Linked DNA regions of Homo sapiens. The protein of the gene in region 2 interacts with the protein of the main gene of each other region in a biochemical or structural test. Each region holds a gene or a part of one and is shown on either strand. Other genes may lie near its edges. The genes, in order: CDC42, NCF2 and AKT1.

What was found.
Region 1: the proteins of NCF2 (region 2) and CDC42 form a complex in vitro, tested with the Homo sapiens proteins (2 studies listed by BioGRID and IntAct).
Region 3: the proteins of NCF2 (region 2) and AKT1 interact in far-western blotting, tested with the Homo sapiens proteins (one study listed by BioGRID).

Annotation. Positions count from the first base shown.
Region 1 is NC_000001.11:22,055,709-22,059,357, forward strand, and holds part of CDC42 (cell division control protein 42 homolog isoform 1 precursor), read left to right. Parts: intron 1-3,649. UniProt on the Homo sapiens protein: Plasma membrane-associated small GTPase which cycles between an active GTP-bound and an inactive GDP-bound state. In active state binds to a variety of effector proteins to regulate cellular responses. Involved in epithelial cell polarization processes.
Region 2 is NC_000001.11:183,583,826-183,587,474, forward strand, and holds part of NCF2 (neutrophil cytosol factor 2), read right to left. Parts: intron 3,153-3,649; coding exon 3,070-3,152; intron 1-3,069. UniProt on the Homo sapiens protein: Subunit of the phagocyte NADPH oxidase complex that mediates the transfer of electrons from cytosolic NADPH to O2 to produce the superoxide anion (O2(-)).
Region 3 is NC_000014.9:104,782,247-104,785,895, forward strand, and holds part of AKT1 (RAC-alpha serine/threonine-protein kinase), read right to left. Parts: intron 1-3,649. UniProt on the Homo sapiens protein: AKT1 is one of 3 closely related serine/threonine-protein kinases (AKT1, AKT2 and AKT3) called the AKT kinase, and which regulate many processes including metabolism, proliferation, cell survival, growth and angiogenesis.

The DNA.
Region 1 (3,649 bases), about 160 Mb from region 2:
GAATGCCTGAACTCAAGCTATTTGCTCCTGTTGGCCTCTGAAAGTGCTGGGATATAGGCATGAGCTGCTGTGCCGCTGACAGGCTTTCTTGGAAGTAAAAGACTAGTTGTGCTTTTATTTATAGATGTATTTTAAATGCACTTCTCTATTGTTTTAGAGTTTTTTTTTTTTTTTTTTTGAGAGGATGAGAAACAATGAGCACCTTAGGCTACAGGGCTTCCTTTGAAGGGGAGAGAGGGTTAAATATTGTGTTAACATATCTTCCATGAAAATATCTCTCTGTATTAAAAGGCTTCATTCTGGAATTTTATGGTAATGCCTTATTCAGTGTTCTCTTCCACATAGATTTCCTCATTAGATTGTAAGTTCTGTGAGGGCAGGGCTTTGGCCTGGCATGGTCACCCCATTGCTAATGCCTAGAATACTGCCATACATACAGTAGGTTTTAAGAAATATTTTTTAAGTGAATGAATTTGATGATGTCTGAGGGTTAACGTTTTCCCTAATATTCCATGGGCCTTTTTGCTGTGTTTCCTGAGACAGCTTTTGTGCTTGGTCAGCCATATCTTTATTTGGGCTCATTGAAGTAGTGATTACTAATCTACTCTTGCTTGACTTTTTCCATCTGTTTAGGTCAGTATCTTCTGCAGCTGCACTGTCTGGACAATTTACCATCACTTAGAAAATCTGTGATGACTACTAGTTCTCTTACTCTCCTAAAAATTATTCACTTAATGTTTGTTTCCTTATCTTCCTTTATTTCTTTGTTTGCAAATAACTTTTACCGCTTGTTCACTACTGTATCAGATTCCTGGTCATGTTATGCTTTGTGTCTTACTAGTTTCTACTTTTAGTTTCTCATACCTTCAGTCCAAAATATTTTTACTAAAGCAATTTTCATTACTTGCCATTTCAGCTACCTCTGCTGCTGCTGCTGCTATTTTAAGTCCTGAATGTCAAAACTCTTCTGGGACATTGATCTCAAACTGCTTATTCCGTGAAGTGAAACCAGGCTTTCTGCCACCAATGTGGCGTCCCTTTTTGCAATTTTAGAAAAATATTTTTTAAATCAAAGATTTGGCATTAGCCATTATACTAAAGTCCAGAACAATTTCTAATAGAGCAGAAAACTATATTGTTCAGCCATGGTATTCACTAAGCACTGGTGCTCTATCACCTTAAGACAAAGTCTGATTTAGGCTCTGTTACTGTTGTTCTGTAATGCTTTACACTTTAACCTTGCATCCTTTTCTGTAAAATTAAGCCATTGCCATTTGCCATTTCAATTCTGCTGTGTGTTCTTGATTGGTATATTGCTACTATAATGATTAAAAGCATAGACTCTGGAACCAGACTGCCTGGGTTCAGATCCTGGTTCTGCCACTTATTAGGTATGTGCAGTCTAAGTAACGTCTTTGTGACTCAGGTTTACTTCCTCTAAAATAGGGGTAGCAGTAGTGCTTACCTAACAGGGCTGCAGTGTTAGGAAGATTGAATTAATATATATGAAGTGTTTAGGACTGTTCACTGGCACATAGTGAGTGCTGTATAGATTTTTGCTCTTGGCACAACTGTGAGGACCCTTCCCCGCCATCTTTGAGAAGCTGTGTTTCTCTCAAACATAAACATTTTAATAACCATCCTTCTCCCGGACTAATCTGATGAATCCAAAAACATTTCTTTTTTCTTTTTTGAGATGGAGTTTTGCTCTTGTTGCCCAGGCTGGAGTGCAATGGCGCGATCTCGGCTCACCGCAACCTCCGCCTCCTGGATTCAAGTAATTTTCCTGCCTCGGCCTCTTGAGTAGCTGGGATTGCAGGCATGCGTCAGCGCCCCTGGCTAATTTTGTATTTTTCGTAGAGATGGGGTTTCTCTATGTTGGTCAGGCTGGTCTCCAACTCCTGACCTCAGGTGATCCGCCCGTCTCGGCCTCTCAAAGTACTGGGATTACAGGCATAAGCCACTATGTCTAGCCCAAAAACATTTCTAAATGAAGTGGAGATTGCTTTACCTTTTTTTTTTCTTTTTTTTTTGAGACAGAGTCTCGCTCTGTCACCCAGGCTGGAGTGCAGTGGCATGATCTTGGCTCACTGCAACCTCTGCCTCCCGGGTTCAAGTGATTCTCCTGCTTCGGCCTCCTGAGTAGCTGGGATTACAGGTGTCCGCCACCACACCCGGGTAATTTTCGTATTTTTAGTAGAGGTGGGGGGGTTTCACCATGTTGGTCAGGCTGGTCTGTAACTCCTGACCTCACGTGATCTGCCTGCCTCGGCCTCCCAAAGTGCTGGAATTAACAGGCGTGAGCCGCTGCATTCCGGCCTCCTTTACATTTTTATCCGTTACCTTTACCGTTGTCATAGAAGCAAGGGTGTCAGGCCTCAGGTATGCAGTATAGTCTGTGGACCCATCAGCATAAGTGTCACCTGGGAGCTCATTAGAACTATCAGGATTCATCCCAGTCTTACTGACCCAGAATCTTATTTTAATAAGATCCCCACATGATTTTTATGTGTATTAAGGCTTGAAGCACCCTCTTCAGGACTGCTAGAGTGATGTCTCAAATTTCGGAAACAATGTGAATGCTTTATTTCATTTTATTTTCCTATGGAAGCATAACCTGGTTTATTTTAGGCAGTGTACCACAATTTATTGCAAGGATCATAATCTGAAAATGAATCTGAAGCATATTTAGTTTTTAAAGGAATTGTTGCTTCCTGCCTATTACGTAGAATTGCCTCATGTCTGCCCATTATCAGGAACTAATGTGTTATTTAAAGTTTTTTTTTTTTTTGAGATGGAGTTTTGCCCTTGTTGCCCAGGCTGGAGTGCAATGGCATGATCTCCACTCACTGCAACCTCCACCTCCCGGGTTCAAGTGATTCTCCTGCCTCAACCTCCCGAGTAGCTGGGATTACAGGCATGTGCCAGCATGCCTGGCTGATCTTGTATTTTTAGTAGAGATGGGGTTTCTCCATGTTGGGAGTTTCTCCATGCTGGTCAGGCTGGTCTCAAACTCCCGACCTCAGGTGATCCACCCACCTTGGCCTCCCATAGTGCTGGGATTACAGGCGTGAACCACCGCACCCAGCCGAATTACGTATTTTTTAATTTTATTTTTATTTTTTAGAGATAGAGTCTTGCTATGTCACCAGGCTGCAGTGCGTGGTGTGATTATAGCTCACTGTAACCTTGAACTCCTGGGCTTAAAGGATCCTCCAACCTCAGCCTCCCAAGTAGCTGGGATTGCAGGCACGCACCACCACACTTGGCTAATTGTAAATATATATATATATTTTTGTAGAGAATGGGGCCTTTTTATGTTGCCCAGGTTGTTCTTGAACTCCTGGCCTCAAGTGACCTCCCACCTTGGCCTCCCAGAGCTGTGGGATTACAGTTGTGAGCCTCTGCACCGGGCCTTAATTTTTTTTTTTTTTGAGACGGAGTTTTGCTCTTGTTGCCCAGGCTGGAGTGCAATGGCGCAATCTCGGCTCACCGCAACCTCCGCCTCCCAGGTTCAAGTGATTCTCCTGCCTCCACCTCCCTAGTAGCTGGGATTACAGGCATGTGCCACCACAGCACGGGGCCTTAATTATACATTTGAACTTAAGTGACATTTTATTGAAAACTAATTGTGGTGACGAGGAATGGT
Region 2 (3,649 bases):
TCTTGCAGTCATGGAAGCCACTGGAAGTTCTCACAGAGATTGCTTTTTTTAAATTTTTTTTTATTTTACAAGATCACTCTGGAATATGAATGGAGGGGACAAGAGCAGTGGCTGGAAAATCAGTTTGGAAGTGACTGCAGTAGTCCTGGTGAAAAATGAGGGTCTCAACCAAGGCAGTGCTAGTGGGGATGGAGAGAAATAGGTGGATTTAAGAAATATTTAAGAGGTCAACCTGATGAGGTTTAGGGAAAGAGACATTCCCTGGATGGATCTCAGGTACAGATTCTGTGAGAAATGGAGGCCAGCCATATGGGAGAGGGTGGCCTTGCCCAGGAATGGATCCTCAAGGTTCACATACGGACTTCATATCTATAGCCCCTGAATTGTACATAAACGAATGTGTGTGCTTGAAAGTGTATTTCTGGAAACACATTTTGCCATTTAACAACCACTGCTGCAGTTGTAAAAGGGAAAAGGGTCAAGAACAGAACTTCAAAGGGAATACCAACACCTAGGGAATTGCGCAAGAGGGCCTGCTTGAGGTTGAGATTAGTGCCTCATTTGTATAATTTCCTCATTGTTGAATTACAGATAAAACTCGGTAGATTTTTCTCTCAGGTGTAACTATTAATATTACCAATCACAGATTAATTGAATCCTGGGTCTTACTTTTAGAAGTTTCCAAGATCTTTCTAATCACTCAAAACCGTGGCCTTCCAGATCCTGGGACTCACGGGCATTTTTTGGAGGAAATTCTTTCTGGGAGCCTTCACTCTTTTGCCAGTTGTATCTCTTCTTTATAGACTATTAGAGGTCACTAAGGAATGACCTTAGAGTTTGCGTTTTGAGATTTAAGATCGGCTGAAGGATTTGTTGTTAGGCCTCCCTGCATATTCTATAGTCTGGAGACGGGGTAAGGGGGAGTGAGAAAGAGAAGGATGTTAAGAGCGGGGACAGGCAGTTAGAGGCAAGACGTCGGTCAAGATAAACACCTGCTGTACCAAAATATCTCATGTGTCCCATAAATATATACACCTACTGCATACCCACAAACATTAAAATAAAAAATTAAAATTAAAAAAAGAATTTATAAAGTCACAATAAATATGTCACACTAAATATGGGGGGAAGAGAGAGCTAAATGCCTGGATATCTTCTCCCAATCCCAGGCTCTCTTTCTCCCCAGATTGCCATTGTGTCTGTGGTTTTTCTTTTAGAAAAGACTTCACTTCTACTTTCACTTCTTCAGGTAACTAACTGCATCTACATCTTTAAGGTCCTTTGAGCATCTTGTGGTTGCCCTTAGCAACAGCTGCATACATGGGTTTTACAGGCTCTGTTTCTGACCAAACCATAGGATCAAAGCCTTTCAGGGTGGCACAGGATCAGAGCCCAGCCCTCTCTCTGATGTCTGGACATTGTCTACAACCTCCCTGCTGCTCCATCCACGCCCGGCCTCACCCTCACCCCACCCACACCATGCACAGATCATTTTCACTGTCAGAAAGTTCTTTATTAGGCTGGGCTCAGTGACTCATGCCTGTAATCCCAGTACTTTGGGAGGCCGAGGCGGGTGGATCACAAGGTCAGGAGTTCGAGACCAGCGTGGCCAACATGGTGAAACCCTGTCTCTACTGAAAAATACACAAATTAGCTGGACGTAGTGGCGGGCACCTGTAATCCCAGCTACTTGGGAGGCTGAGGCAAGAGAATTGTTTGAACGTGGAAGGCAGAGGTTGCAGTGAGCCGAGATCGCGCCACTGCACTCCAGCCTGGGTGACAGGGCGAAACTCCGTCTCAAAAAAAAAAAAAATTCTTCATTAGCCTGAGCCAAATTCCTCTTCCCTAGAACTGATGCACACTGGTGGAACAGTTTCTACAAAGGGTCAGTTTCCCATGCCCCAAAACATTTGAAATTATCACTTAGAATTTTTTTCCTTTGTTATTTGTTATGAGGTATTTGTGCAGGATGAGAGGGAGGAGGAATTGAGATTAACTTTCATTTTGAATTTATTAATCTTTGTACTAATTATTCCATGTTGACTATAAACAAACCTAAAAATGCAGACAGGGTGATAGAAGAAAATGGATTTTCCTATAATCCCACCATCCAGAGAGAATTATTGATAACATTTTGATCTATGGCCTTCCAGACTTTATTCTGTGATACAGAAATGGGACTATGCTATATGAACTGTTTTGAAATCTGTTTTTAAATTTAACATCTGGCTGGGCGTGGTGGCACATGCCTGTAATCCCAGCACTTTGGGGGGCTGAGGTGGGCAGATCACCTGAGGTCGGGAGTTCAAGACCAGCCTGACCAACATGGAGAAACCCCATCTCTACTAAAAATACAAAATTAGCTGGGTGTGGTGGCGCATGCCTGTAGTCCCAGCTACTCGGGAGGGTAAGCCAGGAGAATCGCTTGAGCCTGGGAGGCGGAGGCTGCGGTGAGCTGAGATCGAGCCCTTGCACTCCAGCCTGGGCAACAAGAGTGAAACTCTGTCTCGGAAAAAGAAAAAAAATTAACATCTACTGCAAACTTTTTCTGTATAAGTGCATACGCTACTTACTTATCTGTAGTAATTTATTCTTATACATATAATGTTAATTTGTATTATCATTTTTGCAGCTGAAGTATATTTCCTCAAATGGATTAAACCAGGTTTTGGAAATGCATTTTGCTGGGATGAAGCCAGGTTTTGATGCAGTTTCATGATCATCCCCATTCTGTGACAGCTCAGTACCTCATAGGAGACCTACATGGGTGACCCCATCAGGGACACTGGTGGGGTGTCACACCAGCTGAGTATCAGGCCCATGGTGGTTACCTAGGCTCATTGTGCCTATGACACAGCTGATTTATAATCTGGTGGCAGACCTGCCTTGCCTCCCCAGTGAGAGCTTCTGCCTCACCTGCTGATTTATTGCATAACTGTCCCCAGAAGGGCCAGTCACATTTCCCAACAGAGGTTGGGAAGGTACTGCTCAAACACCAAGCCCGCAACACTGAGACCCCTTGGGTTTCTCTCTGAAATCCTCCAGTTGGTGCAACATTGAACCACTTACTTCTCTGTCTGGTAGTAGAGCATCCCTCGTTGGAAGTAAGCCACTGCCAAGTGCTTGTCTCGGTTAATGCTTCTGGTAAAGGCCTGAGGAGAGAAGGGTCCAGACATGGCCATGATGCAAGGCAGTGAGGAGGTGTGAGATGAGCCACGGCTCACAGAGCCCTAGCTCCCTGTGGTGCCCAGCTCTGCTGTCTGCCCTCGTCGGCACCTCGAGGCCCACCCTGTGCTCTCACGGTGCACCCCACTTCGCTCTCACATTTAGAAGCTGAAGTCTGGGACAATGGTGTGCATTCCTTGTATTGTCATTCCAGTTCTGCTGTGGATCTACAAAACATTCCTGGAGCCATACATATACCATCTGATTTCTGCTTTTGTTAGTCATATATGGCCTAGAAAAGCTACACAAGAATCCAATAATTCCCAGGTGCGGTTGCTCACACCTGTAATCCCAGCACTTTGGGAGGCCAAGGCAGGTGGATCACTTGAGCCCAGGAGTTCAAGACCAACCTGGGCAAAATAGTGAGACTCCATCTCTACGAAAAATTTAAAAATTAGTCAGATGTGGTGGCACATGCCTGTGG
Region 3 (3,649 bases), on a different chromosome or scaffold from region 2:
TCGGCCCCTGATGGAGTGCCTCCCATCCTGCCAGCTGCCACTCCCCGGGACGCTAACTGAGCGGGAAGACTGATGAGCGCCCAGGCCCGGCACCCCTGAAACCCATCTTATCCACCAACTGCTGCCAGCCCCCACCGTGCCCAGCATGGCCCCGTGCTGCCCCCGAGCACGCAGCTCCCGTGCCCAACCCCAGCCTTGCCCCTGACCCTGCTGCCACAAGCCCAGCCCCAGGTTCTGTGAGCTGCATCTGGGGGGTTCTGGGAGCTGGATCTGGGGGTGCGGGAGGGGCAGGCCCAGGGGCGGCGCTTACCAGGCGTGGGGGGTGGGAGAGGACAGGTGCCCAGCCCCGAGCATTCCTGGGGAGTCCTGGGATGGGCAGAGGCCCAAATGGGCCCTGGGCTTTCAGTGCCTTCCCCTCGCCTGGCCCCACAGACCCAGGGAACAGACGGCGATCAGGGCCTACCCCAGGAGACGGGTGTGAGTGAAGGGGCCTCACGTGGCCTTTGTCTTCGGCATCCCAGCCCAGCACACAGACCCCTCCAGGGGAGGAGCAGGATCCCCAGGGACCCGGGGTAAGGGGTCCAGAGACACACAGTTCTCTTTCTTCATCTCTCGCCTAGAGGGTCAGCTAGAGGATCACTTGGGGGGGTGCCAGCTGCAGCCAGGGCCGTGGCGCGCATCTTAACGAGTTCAGCCCAGACAGGATGCTGGGTGGGCGGCCAGCCCCGACAGCAGATGCGGCAGGGCCCCACTACTCCCTGATCCAGGACTGGGGTGACACAGGACGGGGCAGGTGGAGGAGACAGCCACCCGGGGCCCAGCATCACTGTCCTCATGGCCACAGGACGCCTGCAGGCCTGCACCTGCCTACTCCGGGTCCCTCAGGAGGGTGGGAGCACAGACACATCAGCCAGGGCTGCCCTCCCAGACCCCTCACACAAAGAGACCAACCCACATGGAGTCTTCTCCTTCACTATCCTGAGGGTCCCCAGGGGAACTGGAACCTGTCATCCAGGACTTAACTTGAGTTCCCCACCCTGTTGTGGTCCTCAGATGCCCCCCACTCGAGGCAGGAGTACAGTCCACTTGAAGAGTGGCCTCTCAATCCCTGACACCCCAGGAAAAGTGCCCTGCATTGCTGGGGGAACTGGAACCAGGCAGTAGGGACCTCGTCCTCCACACCGACCATGGGAAGCACCCGCCACAGAGGGGCCTTCCATCTCCCCACCATCAGCCAGCTGGCATCCCCCCACCCCACCCCAGTCACCCCCCCAACACCACCCCACCCACCTGCCTGCACAGCTGAGGGCACCAAACACAGAGTGGGCACAGACCCCCAGGTTGCCACGCCAGGCCCTCACTCCAGACGGGTACAGGCAGGCAACAAATGGGGAGGCCAGGGCACGCCCCACCCCACACACAGCCAGAGTCATCTCCTGCCAGCAGCCACTCCCAAGGGCAATGGAGACCGCCCAGCATTCAGGCCCAGGGGGCCTCTTCAGTCCCTAACTCTCACACCCCCATGCTGGGCTCAAGAACCCCCAAGTCCCCACCCGCTGCACATGTTTCAGACCCGGGACCTGGAGCAGGCAGGGTCCCAGTGCAACCCCGGCCTGGGCCTCAGGGTCTGGCAGGGAAGACGGCTAGGTGCCCCTTCAGAAATGTCAGCAAGTCCGGATGGGGGACCCCACACCACTGCCAGAAGACCTGAGTGGGGGGCCGAGTGGAGGACGGCACTGGGGACTGGTCCCACCTTCCTGCCCCATGGCTGGTCCCCTGGGCAAGGGGGAAGCAGCAGCTCCGGTCCCACCCTCCTGCCCCATGGCCGGTTCCCTCGGCAGCGGGGAAGCAGCAGTTCCAGTCTCACCCTCCTGCTGGCCCCCTGGGCAGTGGGAGGCAGCAGCTCCGGTCCCACCCTTCAGGGTTCTCTCAAGGCCAGCCCTGGGCCAGGTGGGAGCCACCCTGACCCTTAACCCTGTGACACTGCACCTATCCAAGACCAGGTCCTGTGAAGCCACAAGGGCAGGGGCTCCTGTGCCTGATGAAACCCGTAACCCTCCCCACCAGCCAGCACATCCATGGCCCAGGGCTCCAGGCATGGGAGGTGGCTGCCCTCGGTGGGGGGTAGGCAGTTGGCCAGACTCCTGTCCCTGCCCGGGGGGACAGCGGAGACCAGGCTCCCTCGACTCCTCCTGCACCTCCTGGGCCCCACACAACCCCAGCCCTGGTCCCTCTGGCATCCCGATGTCCCGGGTGGCCCTCCGGCAGGAGTGACCTTCCATCCCCAACCCCGCTCATCCCCAGGAAGGGGCTGGAGCACCCCCAGGGAAAGAGGGTTCCTTCCCAGAAGTCCTCCTGGACCAAATACCGGGGTTCTGAGAGGAAGCTGCTCCTGCCTGGCCTCCCCCAACCCACCCCACCACCACCACGGGGACCACATGGACAGTCACAGGCAGCCCACCCTCTCCACGCCTCACACACGTGTCCCAGGCCACACTGTGGGTCAGGCCCCCCAAAGCGGCACCCACTTAGACATGGGGGCCAGGACCCACGCGCCATGGGCAGGACTGGGTGGGCCCCTGAGGGCCAGCTGGTGGCCCTCCACGTCCCGGGACTGACCACCTCCTGAGCCACCAGGTGTGTCAGCCCCCCTAGGCCACCACGTCCTCAGCTCCCTGAACATTCTCTCAAAGTCCCCAGTTCTCAGGAAACTGCTGGATAAACACTTCGCAGAGACGGTGGTGGCAGCGGCTGGCAGGGTGCCAGGCGGCACCGAGCTGCTTCTCCACAGCAAAGTGAGCCCAGCAGGCCCTGGGAGCGGGCGCCAGCTGACAGCGGCCACCGTGGTCCCCACTGCCGACACATCCATCGCCCCGACAGCTGCCGGGGGCCCATTTACCTTCTCCAGCACATTGAGCAGACGGCTCCGCTGACGGCAGCCCATGAGGGGCCCGCAACCCACCCTCCCCGCCTGCCAGGAGACCGCACAGCTCACCGCGAAGGGCCCGGCCTGCCAGGCCTCTGCCCGGGCCCGGGAGTACACACCCCTTTACCAGCAGCCCTCGAACCCTGTAAACAACCAGGCTGGGGTGGGGGCAGGGGAGGGGCCACACAACGGAGGCCAGCTGACCCCACTTGGCTGGAGCCCCCAGGTCTGTGGGTGAAATACATCCACTGCTCCTCCCGGCACAAGCCCTTCTGAGGGGGCACAAGTGGCCAGTCTGCACAAGGAGAGGTGTCTGTTCCCGCCAGGCAGAGGACTGGCGCTCCACCTGCCTGGGCCTCGCCCAGCCCAGGACCCATTCTGCTCTCCCAGAAAGCCCACCAGGCAGGCAGGGCGGGCAGGGCTCATCATGCCCATCAGCTCCCTGGGAAAACGGAGACTTAGGGGAGGTGACCCTCAGAGGCAGATCATGACCAGAGAGACCCCAGGTCCTGCCGCCAAGGCAGGGGTTGTAACTTGACACAAACTGCAAATTCTTCACCTCCTTCCGCTCCACCATGGAGCAGGCCTCAGCCCGACACACACACCCCGGGAGGAACATGGTGCGGGCAGGCGGCACCACCATGACCCCGTCCACCTCGCTGAGGCACAGCCGGAGGCGCTGGGGCCTCTCTTCCTGCCACTCCAGGGAAGCACCTGGGTCTC